Homo sapiens: one gene and its partners. The protein of the gene in region 3 purifies or fractionates together with the protein of the main gene of each other region. This does not show direct contact. Each region holds a gene or a part of one and is shown on either strand. Other genes may lie near its edges.

Region 1 (3,500 bases), on a different chromosome or scaffold from region 3:
GAGTGAGGGGCCTTGGCTCACAGGGCAGCGGCTGGGGCAGAGCTGCTGGATTGGTGAGTCCATTGGGAGCCCCCAGCCTTGGGTCAGGCCCATACAGAGCTTGGGGTGGGGGTTAATGCCACTGTTGAATGTGCTTTCTCCTAGTGACCTTCAAAGGGAGATGAAAGTTAAAAATAATTTTGGTGGGGGAAATAGCTGGTGGATAGCGGGCCAGTGATGGGGGTGGGCAGGAGGATGTGGCACTGTCGGGGGGAGGAAGCAGACCAAATGCTCCTTTTCCCTCAAGCCGCAAGGGACGGACAGCACTATCTGTGGCCTTTGTGGTTGGCATTTCCCCTGCAGTGTCTTCCTGTTAGGAGTTCTCTCAGATAATAAGCTGCAGAAGAGAGCAGGAGATGGAGCAGGCACTGTGTGCATCGGATTGAAACTCCTAAGTGTCTCTTGCACCTGCCCCAGTGCCAGCCACAGCCCAGGCCTTCAACGCCCTCCGGCCTCTTATGCTGGAAGTCTCCTTAGCAGATGGCCTCATGGCCAGAGCTGGCCTCCTGTGAGCTCTGTTGCTGCCCTAACTGCAGTGCCTATCATCTGAGCCCCTCTCGCGAGCCACCTTCACTCGCTAAAGTGAATTTAGGCCGACTTTGTTTTTGCTGTGTCTGGCTTGCTATCTATTCTTTGTTATGAGTGATCTCAAATATGCCCTATGATCGAAGAGTTCTGAGCAGAGAGAATTCAGCAGCCCTTCAGGAGCCACATCTGTCCTTACTTTAATTACCCCTCTGTGACACTGTGGGCCTGCTTTTCACTTGCCATCCCTGACCTAGGTCCTAAGATATATGTGATCTATTTTATCCCAGCCTGACAACTAGAGATAATTCGGTGTAATCACATGCTTCCTGACAGCAACTGGGGCATGAGAGCACAGGTGGTCAGGGAGTGTGGGTGGTGCCAGGCTTTCACAGGGCACACACTGTGGTCCACGTCGGCCCCTCTCCCAGATGATATGCCACTTTTACTGTCTTGTGATACTTGGAAATAGTATCACAAGACAGCCTTTTTAAGGCTTCAAAGTCTCCTTTTGCCAAGGATGGTGATTAGCTTATCTTAGTCCTCTGAGAACAAAGCAAAAGGAAATGACTACTATTAAAATAGAATATAAGAATGATGTAAAAAAAAAAGGGCTTCTTGCAGCAAAATTATAAAAGGGCTGCAAAGTTCTAGAATTTCTTTTATTGATGCTCTGCAAAACACAGGCACTGGGCTCATGCCTCCCAGCGAGGGGCCTTGGCTCACAGGGCAGTGGCTCCCCAGGCGGAGTGTTCACAGGTGGCCCAGATGTCTCATTGGCCCTGCCCTTCCTCAGCCTGCGCTCCGGACAGACTGGGCAGTGTGCGGGAACCACCCTGCGTTTTACTGCCTCTTGTTCACACTGCTCCTGCATCCACCTGAACTGCCCCAGATCATCTTGGCCGGCTGCCTTCTTCAGGGTCCCTGCGAATATTCCTCCTTTAGGAAACCAAGCTAGAAGATGTCTCCTTCTCCTTGGAACTCCCTCTGCACTTGACCCGTACACTTCTTAGGCCCTGGCCGCTGTCCTTGTTGGATGGACTGCAGCCCCTCAGGGAAGGTTTTCATTCCAGTCCTCCCTGTGTTAATTGAGCACCTGCTACATTCAAGCACCGGGCTCGGTACTGGGGATTCCTTGAGTGAAACAAAGGTTCCTTGCCCTCACAGAGCTTACGTTCTCTACTAGAAAGGTGCGAAAATGAACAGGCAGCTATAATACGGTGTGATGATTACAATGACAGGAATGAAGGGGATGGGGGAGCACATGGCAGGGCCCTATGCTGGCTTGGGGTTTTGCAGACTTTCCTTAGGAAGTGACAATTAACTGGATACCTGAAGGATGAATGAGAGTTAGCCCAGTAACCTCACAATGCTGTCTCGAATGCAACCACACAAAAAGATTTGCTGTAGAAATGAGTAGGTGCCTTTTGTAGCTATCCCAGCGTGAGGTCTGTGTGAGAAGTGGCATGCTTTTCATGAGGAAGGGACCTCCTTGGTCCCTCCACCTCCCTCCTCTTCACCCCCCAGAAGAAGTTGGGTGGGACAGGCTTCTGCAGCAAACAAGGGACCCCCTCCCCTCACAGGGACCAAGGAGGACAGAACTTGTCTGAGCTCTACAAGCCCAGATTGAAAATAGAACTGAGAGAGACAGGAGCAGTGTGAGTGACAGGCATGTGCTCTGATTGGCTAGACAGAGGAATCTGAAATATGAGTTTGGAGCGGGCACATGACTTAAATATCCTCTGCTGGGTCAGCTTCCCCTTGCCCCCAACCCCAGCTGCACACGTGGGCCCTGAGAAGCGGACTTCTGGTTCTGTCAGAGAAAGATGACCCATTTTCAAAGAGGCCGCCCCATGAGCCATTCGCCATTTCGCTCTGCACAAGAGACATTTCCTGTTTGGAGTTCTGCTATCCGAACTTGGTCTTGCATTGGCGCAGATGTGGGCACACCCCAGGGCCCTGGGAGTTCAGAGCTGCAAGTGAGGCAGGAGGCCATGTGGCCTAAAAGAAAGAAGTCAGGCCCGGGTCAGCAGCCCTGGATTCTGGTCCAGGCTCTTTTGCTGCTGCAGTGCTGTGACATACTGAATTTGTCCCTTTTCCTCTCTGAGCTCAGCAGTTTCATCTGTAAAATAATGGAGAGGGAATCATATTAGGTGATCCATGAGGCTGGCCCAGCTCTGGTATCGTAAATGTTTGTAGCCAATACAACATCCCTGGTTATGATAGAAGGATGCCCTTGACTGGCCCAGCTCTGGTATCCTAAATGTTCGGAGCCGATATAACATCCCTGGTTATGATAGAAGGATGCCTTTTCTTAGACGTGAGGATGCGTCCCACGGGCTTCAGCACTGGGTCTGCTCTGTGGAACTTCCAGGCCGAAGGCTGGGGAGGGTAATGGGGCAGCATGGCTGCAGGAGTCGAGCTCAGTGCCTGAGCCGGGAGCTCGATGCGGGAGCTGTGGGCTGCTCCTCCTCCCTGCTAGGAGCAGGTGCAAGAGGCCTGCAGAGTGCTGGGGCTGGGCACGGACCTCACAGTGCCATGAAGCCTCGTGCAGCTTTGAATTTCACTTGTGATTTCTTCATGGAACTTCAAAGCCCTAGCAATGTAGGCGCGTAGTCAATTATTATTTGAGTAAGTGACTGCGTGCAATGGCCCAGGATAAGGGGGTTCTGGAGAGGGCAGTCCGTGCTCCTATTCTTTCTCTGTCTTCTTTATTATGATTTTTGCTTTTTACTATGAAAAATTTTAAGCCTTCAGAAAAGTAGAGTGATATGCCACCCATATACCTATTATCTAGATTTAAGAAGAAGAATGATTTTTCCATCTGTTATTTGCTGTGTTTGGGAAGGATTTTAAAGTACAGACGTCATGACATTTTACCTCTAAATGCTTCGGATGCAACTCTAAAAAATAAGGATGTTTTCATACTTAACCAC
Region 2 (2,873 bases), on a different chromosome or scaffold from region 3:
GTATCCTTGGAGGAGACAGAGCTCAGAGGGGACAAGAGAGACCCTCTGTTCATGGACTGGCCAACCGGGGAAAAGCGAGGGGCCTGGTCCTCCGGGCATCCTAGGAAGGTGGTGGGGCTAATCCCGGAAGACCTTTGTGGCTACCGTGGTGCCGCTGGAGCAGGAGACCCCGGATGTGACCCCAGGGTTCCTGGGGCTTCCAGGAAAGAACTAGGCTTCTGGTCAGGGCCGTGCTGTCCTTACCTCCTTGTGACCTGAGCCCCCACCACATGTTAAACACCCCTGAGTGCAATGAGGAGCCCCTGCCCCTGCCCCTGCGGGGTTCACAGTCTGGTGAGGAGGTGGGGGGCAGACAAGTCAACATGCAGTCACTGGTCCCAGCTGGTACATGCTGCAGGGGAGCTGTGAGGAATGAGCAAGTGCTCCCAGGGCGAGGCTCACACTGACAGGGGAAGCACCCGCCTGAGGGTCTGGTGGGGCGAGTAGGGGGTAGTCCAGGCAGGAGGGATTTGGGGGCAGGAGGTGCTATGAGAGCGAGGGGAGAGAATGGGGGCTGTATCTGCTGTGTGCGTGCTGCCCTGAAGGCTTTCAGTAGAAGGGTCCTGTGGGGCTGTGGGCTGGAGCAGGGAAGCCCACCCAGGCAGGAGGGGAAGAGGGAGATCTGGAAGATGGATCGCCAATAGCCAGCACCAGCGCCCAGGAGTCCCTCCTTCCTGGGTGCCTCTGTGCCGGAGGCCCGAGTCCCCTGAACACCTGCAGGAGGCCAGGCATCGCCCACAGCCCTGCCCCCTGGCCTCTTGGCAGGAAAAAGAATGAGAAGCTGGAGCTGCTGGTGGGCTGCATTGCAGAGCTGCGGGAGGCAGATGAGGGGCTGCTGAGGGCCGGTGAGAATGACTTCAGCATCATGTACTCAACCCGCAAGCGGAGTGCTCAGCTGTGGCTGGGCCCAGCCGCCTTCATCAACCATGGTGAGGGTCAGGCAGGTGGATGGGCAGGACGGGATAGAGCCAGGCAGGGCTGGAGGGGTGTAGTGGGAGGGTTCTGCGACTGAGCTGCCGAGCTCATCTACCTCTCTTCTCTCTCCTGCCCCAACTGGCTCCAGACTGCAAACCCAACTGCAAGGTAAGGCCTTGGGACTCGGGAGGAGAGGGCACGCAGGAAGAAAGGGTGCCTGTGGCCTGGGGAAAGGGTTTTTGGTCAGTAAAGAGCCAAACACCGGCCGGGCGCGGTGGCTCATGCCTGTAATCCCAGCACTTTGGGAGGCCGAGGTGGGCAGATCACGAGGTCAGGAGATGGAGACCACGGTGAAACCCCATCTCTACTAAAAACACAAAAAATTAGTCGGGCGTGGTGGCGGGCGCCTGTAGTCTCAGCTACTTGGGAGGCTGAGGCAGGAGAATGGTGTGAACCCGGGAGGCGGAGCTTGCGGTGAGCCGAGATCGCGCCACTGCACTCCAGCCTGGGCCACAGAGCGAGACTCTGTCTCAAAAAAAAAAAAAAAAAAGAGCCAAATGCTGCCCCATGTCTCCATGGCTTCCCACGGGTCCTGGAAGGGGCAGAGTGGGTATTTGCTCACAAGGCTACCAGAAAGGAGGAAGGGGTTCCAGTTTGGCCAGCGTTGCCCGGCTGTTTGTGCAGTTGCACTGGAACCCTGGTTGCCAGCTGCTGGCCATCTTTCTTCTCTGAAAACCGAGCTGGGAGCTGTGCCAATTTGGGCAGGGAGTGTGGCAGGGAGGCAGGGCCCTGTGGTGGGAGCCCCCGGCCTTGCAGGGAACAACGCAGGCAGCTGTGGTGGCAGGAGCAGGGAGGCCAGAGAGCCCCAGGGGCCAGGACTCAGGATGCTGTCCAGACATGCCCAGGAGAGGCCGCTGGTTGTCCTGTAGCCCGGAAGCAGAAGGAATCAGGAGGGTTGGCTCCAGGGCGGCATTGAGGGTGCACCCTCTGGAGCACAGACCTCGATGGGGCACCCCGGGAGGCATGACAAAGGGATCCAGATTTTTGGCTCCAGAGTCAGAACTGAGTTGGGGTCCTGGCGATGCCACCCCTGGCCTTTGGTTTTTCATCTCAGATGGGGTTGGTGAGGATCTCTGGAACTCTGCGGGCTGGTCAAGTGTGCCGGAGGGTTTTGGACAGCGAATGCGTGGCCCTGGTCTGACACCACACACAGACGCTGGGGGGGATGGAAACAAAAGGCGGCATTCGGAGAGGCTCTGCAGGGCCAGTGTGCTCCAGCCACCTTGAGCACACGAGAGGGCGGCCAGCTCTCCAGCGATCTAGAACCATCTGGCTTCACAGAAGCCATGCTGGGCATCGACGGAGGAGTAGAATTTCCCTAGGTGTTAAAGGAAATCAGGGGCAAAGGGGGGCGTCTAGCAGGACACGGCACACCAGAGGGCTGGGGGTGCCCAGCGACGGCTTTGATCCGGCAGCAAGGCCTTGGGGTCCGGGCCAGGGAGCCATGGAAGCTCCCCCCAGGGTGTATAATGGGAAGCTTGGTTTTTAGGTCACCCTGGAGGCCCATGTGCAGGAGGCTTGGCAGGAAGGGGAGAGGCTGTAGGCAGGGTGGCCACAAAGAGGTGATGAGGGGCTGACTCCAGTAGGGGTCTCGGGGAGGCGAGGAGGATGAGGATGCGGGAGGTGGCACACTCAGAAGGCAGTGGCCGGTTGGTCTGGGGGCCGTCAGGCAGGCAGGTGGCGAGGGCTACTCCCAGGCAAATGTCAGGCTTGAGTGGATGGGTAGATGGACAGTTGGGTGGACAGTGGTCATGCCCCCTCCTAGACGGGGAACAGGGAGGAAGGCGCAGCTGTGTGGGGCTTAGGAGGAGCCTGTGGGGCAGCTCCTGGGTGAATGATCCCAAAGGCAGGGCCAGAGC
Region 3 (3,500 bases):
ATTAAGACAGCTGGGGTGATCACTGGGTGTATAATACCAGAGTGTGGTAGACCTTGGTTAAGTTTTGAGAATGTGTCACAACATCCTACATCAGAGTTGATATGTTGTCCTGGTTGATTTTGGTGGCTGTGGTCATGGGGACGGAGAGCTTTTTAAACTTTGTTGACTTCGTGGATTGTGAAAAACTATAAGGCATGCACAAAGCATGGACTGACTTTAGAGTCAGAGGGCTCTCAGGCTACAATCTGGCAATGCCTCTGTGTGACCCGGAATAAAATAGGTAACATCTCAGAGCCTTAGTTTACCTTTCTGCAAAATGGGAGTAATGATGCCTACCTAGAAGGGCTGTTGCGAGGACTGGCGCTGGTACCTGGCTGGCAGGACTTGCTTGGTTGACCAGTTATGATCACGGTGTTCATCTGTTATCTTTCCATCTCTCCACTAGGTACCTTGGGATCACAAGGCCCCTCACATACCCTGTGAGGCAGAATGGGAAATGCATGGCGAAGATGATTCTCTCCGTCTGGCTTCTCTCCGCCTCCATCACCTTACCTCCACTCTTTGGATGGGCTCAGAATGTAAATGATGATAAGGTGTGCTTGATCAGCCAGGACTTTGGCTATACGATTTACTCTACCGCAGTGGCATTTTATATCCCCATGTCCGTCATGCTTTTCATGTACTACCAGATTTACAAGGCTGCCAGGAAGAGTGCTGCCAAACACAAGTTTCCTGGCTTCCCTCGAGTGGAGCCAGACAGCGTCATCGCCCTGAATGGCATAGTGAAGCTCCAGAAGGAGGTGGAAGAGTGTGCAAACCTTTCGAGACTCCTCAAGCATGAAAGGAAAAACATCTCCATCTTTAAGCGAGAACAGAAAGCAGCCACCACCCTGGGGATCATCGTCGGGGCCTTTACCGTGTGCTGGCTGCCATTTTTCCTCCTCTCGACAGCCAGACCCTTCATCTGTGGCACTTCCTGCAGCTGCATCCCACTGTGGGTGGAGAGGACATTTCTGTGGCTAGGCTATGCAAACTCTCTCATTAACCCTTTTATATATGCCTTCTTCAACCGGGACCTGAGGACCACCTATCGCAGCCTGCTCCAGTGCCAGTACCGGAATATCAACCGGAAGCTCTCAGCTGCAGGCATGCATGAAGCCCTGAAGCTTGCTGAGAGGCCAGAGAGACCTGAGTTTGTGCTGTAAGGTCATTTATCACTATTTTCCTTTTATCCCCCAAACCCTTTTATGCAGCTTTTTGAGGCACATCACAGAAAGCTTCCTGAACGAGTAGCTAGCTTAGTTTTTACTAAACATACCAGATTTGAATTGACAACAGTATAGACTCCAGTCTTCCACCCAGTAAAATTCCAAAAGCCAAAAATAGGTACTTAGTTGGATTGGTAGATGAGACTAATTTGCTGATGAATTGCAATTGATGTGATTGACAACAAGGCAGGTGATATTTTCCCTTCTTTCTCCATAAATGACATCCAAATGATATCCTTACATCTGAATTTGTGTAACATTATTATTTTAGTTGTTATTATTCTTCTGTCCAGTAAAGCTTTTTTGATAACCTCATCCTTCACAGATAAATTCTTCTTTTGAGGTAGGAGGCACAATGATCTTTTTAGTATGCAGTTACATTCACCTGGGCTGAAAGGAGGCAGCCCAGGAAAAAGAAGAGTTGTTAGTGTGGGGAGATGCCAGGATGAGGCAAGGTCTTAAAAGCTACAAGAGCCGGACATGGTGGAGCGCCTCTGTAATCCTAGCCACTTGGGAGGCTGAGGCAGGAGGATAGCTTGAGCCCAGGGGTTGGATTATGCAGTGAGCTATGATCATGCCACTCCAACCTGGTTGACAGAGCAAGACTCGCCTCTAAAAAATAAAAGAAAAAGAGCCACAGGAGCTTTTAGGAAATGTTCCTGCCCATCTTGGCAGGTGAGAACCAAGAATTGGTCTAAGAAGTCTTAGTGACTTTCAAGGAAGCAATTACAATAGGTTCTTGGGATCTGAAAAAGGATCTGATGGTGATAGAGAAATGGAAATTTCAGAAGTGACCCACATGTTAAAAATTTGGCATTGTAAAGAAGGAAAGAGATAGTATACTAGTTAGAGGTGTCAACATGTCTGATGAAGACTTTGTTTTAAATGTGAGGTAGAGGAGATTTCTTCACGTTTGAAAGTCAGGGGAAAAATAAACTTGGAATGAAAAATTGGAAGGTTCTGGTGAGAGAATGAGCAGATTAGTGTTGGAGGTGTCGTTCTTCACTGAGCCTGGCAGGGAGGAGTAGACTAGAGAACCAGGGACCACTCTAGCAGAGAGGGACCTTCCTGGTCATCTTGTCCACCCCTGTCTTTCAACAGAAGAGCTAACTGGGAGTTGAAAAGTGAGATGTCTCACACTTAGCTAGTGTCACAACTAAGTCTAGATTCCACATCATCTGAATCCCAGTGCTACTCATTTTTCTTATACTGGACTGCCTTTATCTTACAACTGAAAGTTGGAAGACTACAGCTATGCTAATTCTTAAGCTGAGTGTAGCTTCACAGGCATTCATGTTTACTTCTATATACTCTTTTGTACACGAGATTGTTCACAATATAAAAAGTAGCATTAAAAAATGTAATTTTAAGTTCTAGAACATGTACTGTAAGCAAACCCAGAGATCTTACTATGCCTATAAGAGTTCGTTGAACTGACCATTAGGATTTTGAATTCCTTCAGAGAAGGAACAATGTCTTAATCAGATTTCTTTCTGCAGAATCTAGTACAGTGCTTGACACATAATAGATGATAAATAAAAGTAATAACTGCTAACCATTATTGAACACCCGCTACATGCTATGCAGCATGCTACCTGCAAAATAGGTGCTTCTAGCATCCCCACTTTTCAGAAGAACAACTTAAGGCTCAGGAACAAAAGTAACTGACCTATGTTCACACAGTCCCTAAGTGGTAGCTGTGATATGAATCACCCCGATGCTTGTATTGAATGTTATGCAGTTATACTTGTCAAGTGACTTCAGTATATAGGCAGTGAAGAGTCTCAGAATATTTTTGAGCTGGAGACTAGCCATAAGCTCTCTAAGAAGACAATGAGAATGAATTGTTACTCTAAGTAAGTAAAGTTTATTAGACTTACTGCACTACGAGTGGTATCCACTCCTAGACAGTCTTAGTAGTTTCTCAGATGAAGGAAATAAGGCAAGGATATTGATAGGGTTTTGGGGCTTGGGCTGGGTGATTTGAAGGTAGGGAACTGGTGAGGATTAGGCAGAGTTTATGACATAATAGCTTTAGACTGGTAAGTACAGCTAGATGAGGGCTGTGAAGTGAGTGTTAATGAGCAAACTAGTCTTGATAAGTAGGCTATTTTTGTTGGCATATAGTCTTCTGAAAGTGACTATTTCCTAGAACAAATAGCTAGGTTATTTTGCCTGGCTGCAGCATTTTTTAGCACAGGAAAAGGAAAGCGTGTTGGTTTTAGTTCTCAG
Region 4 (3,500 bases), about 88 Mb from region 3:
TTTTGTATTCTAAGAGCTTTACACTTCTTATCTCCAAGCCTAAATACATGATCCCAAGAGAGGCGTGTCCTCATTTTGGAAGTGGGGAGAAAGACTCAGAAAGAAAAGTAAGTTAGGTAAGGGCATGAGGTGCATACGTGATTGTGATAGGAGCAAAACAGATCTTAATTCCAAATATTGTACTCTCCCGTAGACCACGAAGAGTACTTATGTCTGGCTGTGTCACCCAGGCCAGAGTGTAGTGGTGCCATCATAGCTCACTGCAGCCTCAAACTCCTGGGCTCAAGTGATCCTCCTGCCTCAACCTTCTGAGTAGCTGGGAAGACAGGAATGCACCATCATGACCAGCTAATTATTATTATTATTATTATTATTATTTTTGTAGAGACAGGATCTCACTATGCTGCCGAGACTGGCCTTGAACTCCTGGCCTCCTGTAGTGATCCTCCTGCCTTGGCCTCCCAAAGAGCTGGGACTACAGACATGAGCCATTGTGTCAGGCCTCCACCATCTCCACCATGTTTTTCAGGGACCTTTCTTGGTGAAGCTGCTTTATCTAGTTAATGCTCAAAAGTGAGCAAAACCCGATTTGCCCAAAATTACACAGATATTCTTTGGGTGGCTTTGTTAGGGGAACGGAAAATGCCTTTTTATAGTGATAGGAGTCCAGGTGGCAAGAACGATATTATGTGATGGGCTGCTTTTTCTTCTCTCAGTAGAGTGTATATTATTTAATTATAAGATACAATTGAAAATCTCTTTCTCTTTTCTATATTCCCGACTCCCCGGGCCTTGAATGAAGAAAGTATTTCTCAGGCTGTTTTTGTTTGTTTGTTTGTTTGTTTTTTCTACTTGCTTGGATATCTTCTGTCTCAGGCTGTTTTTTTTTTTTTTTTTTTTTTCTTTCTCTTCTTCTGCCTCTTTATGTATCTTCTGTTGTCCCAAGACATGTCTGGAAACTTAAATTGATTTTCACTCAATCTGAAATAAGCTCCATAACTCTGAATGGCGGACTTACCATGACTAAGTCCCCACTGCCACAGAACACTGTGCCACACACCAAGAGTGACTCATTGTCTTAGTCACAGGTTGTGGCTTCTGAAGGTCCTGGTGCCTGGTGGAGCTGAGTGTACTGGGAAGTCCAGGTGCATCCTTAGGGTAGGCTGCATGTGAAAGCTGCGTCCTTTTTGCCTGTGGTGAGGTGAATATCAATACAGTATTTATAGAAAGTCCACATAAATTGAGTAAGTACAAACCTTTCCAATCCTAGTGAGAATAACTAGCATTAATGACTCTTTGTTATGTGGCAGGGCCTCAGTGATCCTGGGCAATGACTTATCCCTATTTTACACATGAGCAAGGGGCGCCTGAGTTGCACCACCTTCCCTGAGTTCACAGAGCTCCGTGGTGGGGCCGGGCCCTGTGGCTGCAGCAGGGATGTTCAGGGCTGCGCGTACCTGCGTCTTCACTGGTGTCTTTCCCGCGCCCAGCACCATGCCTGGCGCTTCGCAGGAATGCAAGTGTTTGCTGCCTGCCTCCTGCCTGGAATCTCCACTGAGGAGCAGGAAACCAGGGGTTCTAGCTGTCTTCTTCGTCCATGAAGTCCTTTAGAGGAATTCAACCCTCTCTAATTAAAAGTATCCAATATCCTCAGGTCAATATGTGTAAACTGTTAAGACTTCAAGATTAGAACCTTAAAACCGAAGTCAGAAGTGTGAGGTTTCCATTGGCTGGACGTGCATTAGGTCAATGACACACATATTTATTGGACACCAGGCTTGAGCCCCACATGGGCACCTTTGGTGTCTGAAGCAATGCTGGCTTCGGAGCCCAGTAGGGTGGAAGGGGAAACTGAGAACAGCGCCATTTTGCCTCCCACGGCTCTGGGCCCGTTACCTTCCTGTGTACATACATTATTTGATGGGATCTTTTCAGTGTAAAGTGCAGTAATTAATTTTGCAAAAATTACTGGGTCTGGGAGGCAGTGTGTTGGAATGATGGTGTCACCATGTGGCACAGTGGGAGATTTGTGTAATGGCATCATTTTCTGTGAATGCAGACCGTTTTGTGTGCCATACTCGAATGACCCTTCGAAGCTAGACATTTTGTCATCTTTCGAAAGAAGCATGTTTTCCCCCTTGGTTACAGAAAGCTAAAAGCTTTTGATACAGGACTCCAACCTTTTATCAGGGAGAATTAGGCTCTTTAAATAATTAGGGCTCTACCAATCTGATGGGCCATCAGAAGCAATTAAAATTAGAAAGGTGAAGATACGGTAACGTAGTCAGGACAAACATCAGGATACCAGATTGCACGTTCACAATGGCATTTCGGCTAAGAAAGTGCGGGTGAATATAGAACAGAGGGCCGTATGTCAGTAATTGGGTTCCGTTTTGTGTTTCTTTTCCACAAGCCCTTTCTGGTGTTGTGTTTTTGTTTATTAGAGAGTAGCTGCCCAAAGGCTACAGTTTCCCTCCCCACTCCTCGGTTCTCTCCGTCTTCACCCCCAACTCCCAGTCCTGTGTTTGGAATTACAGTCATTGTGCTTGTCAGGATGTAAGAGGCAGCCAGACACATGGCAGACCAGAGCACTGAGAGGCAGAGACATTTATAGGTCCTAGCCCTGGTCCTGCTGTCTGGGTCAGCAGGGTGCTGAGTGCTGAGTGCTGAGATAGGGTCTTGATGTTTTCCTCTGCAGAATGGAGGCATCACTCAGTCTCTGTCTCCTCTCCCTGTCTCTGTCTTCCCTCCCCTCTTCCCTAACACATATCCACAGTGAAAGTGTTCAGGAGGAAAAGAGAATAGGCTGGACTGTGCTGGGACCCCCAACCCCAGGGCCCGTGTGCTATTTTCCCAGCCTCCGTGTGCCCAGAGATGCCTAGGGGAGCCTGCGGAGGTGTAGATCCTGACTGTGTGGGTCTGAGTGAGGCTCCGACTCTCACGGGGAGGGCACCGGTGCTGCTGGACCCCCTGGGGCCAGTGGAGCGGTTTGCAAATCGGGCAGATCAGCTTCTCCACTTCTCCAGGTTTCCCCAATGTGAGATGCTCCCAGGAGTCCCATGGGATTGTTTTCTGACTTTGACCAGGATTTTGACAGAGAAGATTCATTAATATAGGACCCCTTGTCTAAACGTACATATGTAAATGATCTGATCCGAAGTTTCCTGAATGGAAAATGATTGAAAGGGTGGCATGCAGTAGCCTCGGGGAGTCAGTCCTTCATATCTTTTCAGCTGTGTCTTACTACGATTAAGATTTTATTTCTGTGTGTGTGTGTGTTTTTTTTGTTTGTTTGTTTGTTTGTTTTTGAGACGGGATCTTGCCCTCTTGCCCAGCCTGGAGTGCAGTGGCTTGATGTCGGCTCACTGCAACCTCCGCCTCCTGAGTTCAAGCGATTTTCCTGTCCCAGCCTCCCAAGTAGCTGGGATTACAGGCATGCGCCACCATGCTCACCTGATCTTTTTTGTATCGTTAGTAGAGATGGGTTTCACCGTGTTGGT

The links.
Region 1: the proteins of HTR7 (region 3) and TUBA8 purify together in Homo sapiens (tandem affinity purification; one large-scale study listed by IntAct). This does not show direct contact.
Region 2: the proteins of HTR7 (region 3) and KMT5C purify together in Homo sapiens (tandem affinity purification; one large-scale study listed by IntAct). This does not show direct contact.
Region 4: the proteins of HTR7 (region 3) and PFKP purify together in Homo sapiens (tandem affinity purification; one large-scale study listed by IntAct). This does not show direct contact.

What each region holds. Positions count from the first base shown.
Region 1 is NC_000022.11:18,113,809-18,117,308, forward strand, and holds part of TUBA8 (tubulin alpha-8 chain), read left to right. Parts: intron 1-3,500.
Region 2 is NC_000019.10:55,342,876-55,345,748, forward strand, and holds part of KMT5C (histone-lysine N-methyltransferase KMT5C), read left to right. Parts: exon of another isoform or gene 1-804; coding exon 805-968; intron 969-1,102; coding exon 1,103-1,122; intron 1,123-2,873. UniProt on the Homo sapiens protein: Histone methyltransferase that specifically methylates monomethylated 'Lys-20' (H4K20me1) and dimethylated 'Lys-20' (H4K20me2) of histone H4 to produce respectively dimethylated 'Lys-20' (H4K20me2) and trimethylated 'Lys-20' (H4K20me3) and thus regulates transcription and maintenance of genome integrity.
Region 3 is NC_000010.11:90,746,540-90,750,039, reverse strand, and holds part of HTR7 (5-hydroxytryptamine receptor 7), read left to right. Parts: intron 1-445; coding exon 446-1,201; coding exon of another isoform or gene 1,202-1,205; exon of another isoform or gene 1,206-1,206; intron 1,207-3,500. UniProt on the Homo sapiens protein: G-protein coupled receptor for 5-hydroxytryptamine (serotonin), a biogenic hormone that functions as a neurotransmitter, a hormone and a mitogen.
Region 4 is NC_000010.11:3,070,548-3,074,047, forward strand, and holds part of PFKP (ATP-dependent 6-phosphofructokinase, platelet type), read left to right. Parts: intron 1-3,500. UniProt on the Homo sapiens protein: Catalyzes the phosphorylation of D-fructose 6-phosphate to fructose 1,6-bisphosphate by ATP, the first committing step of glycolysis.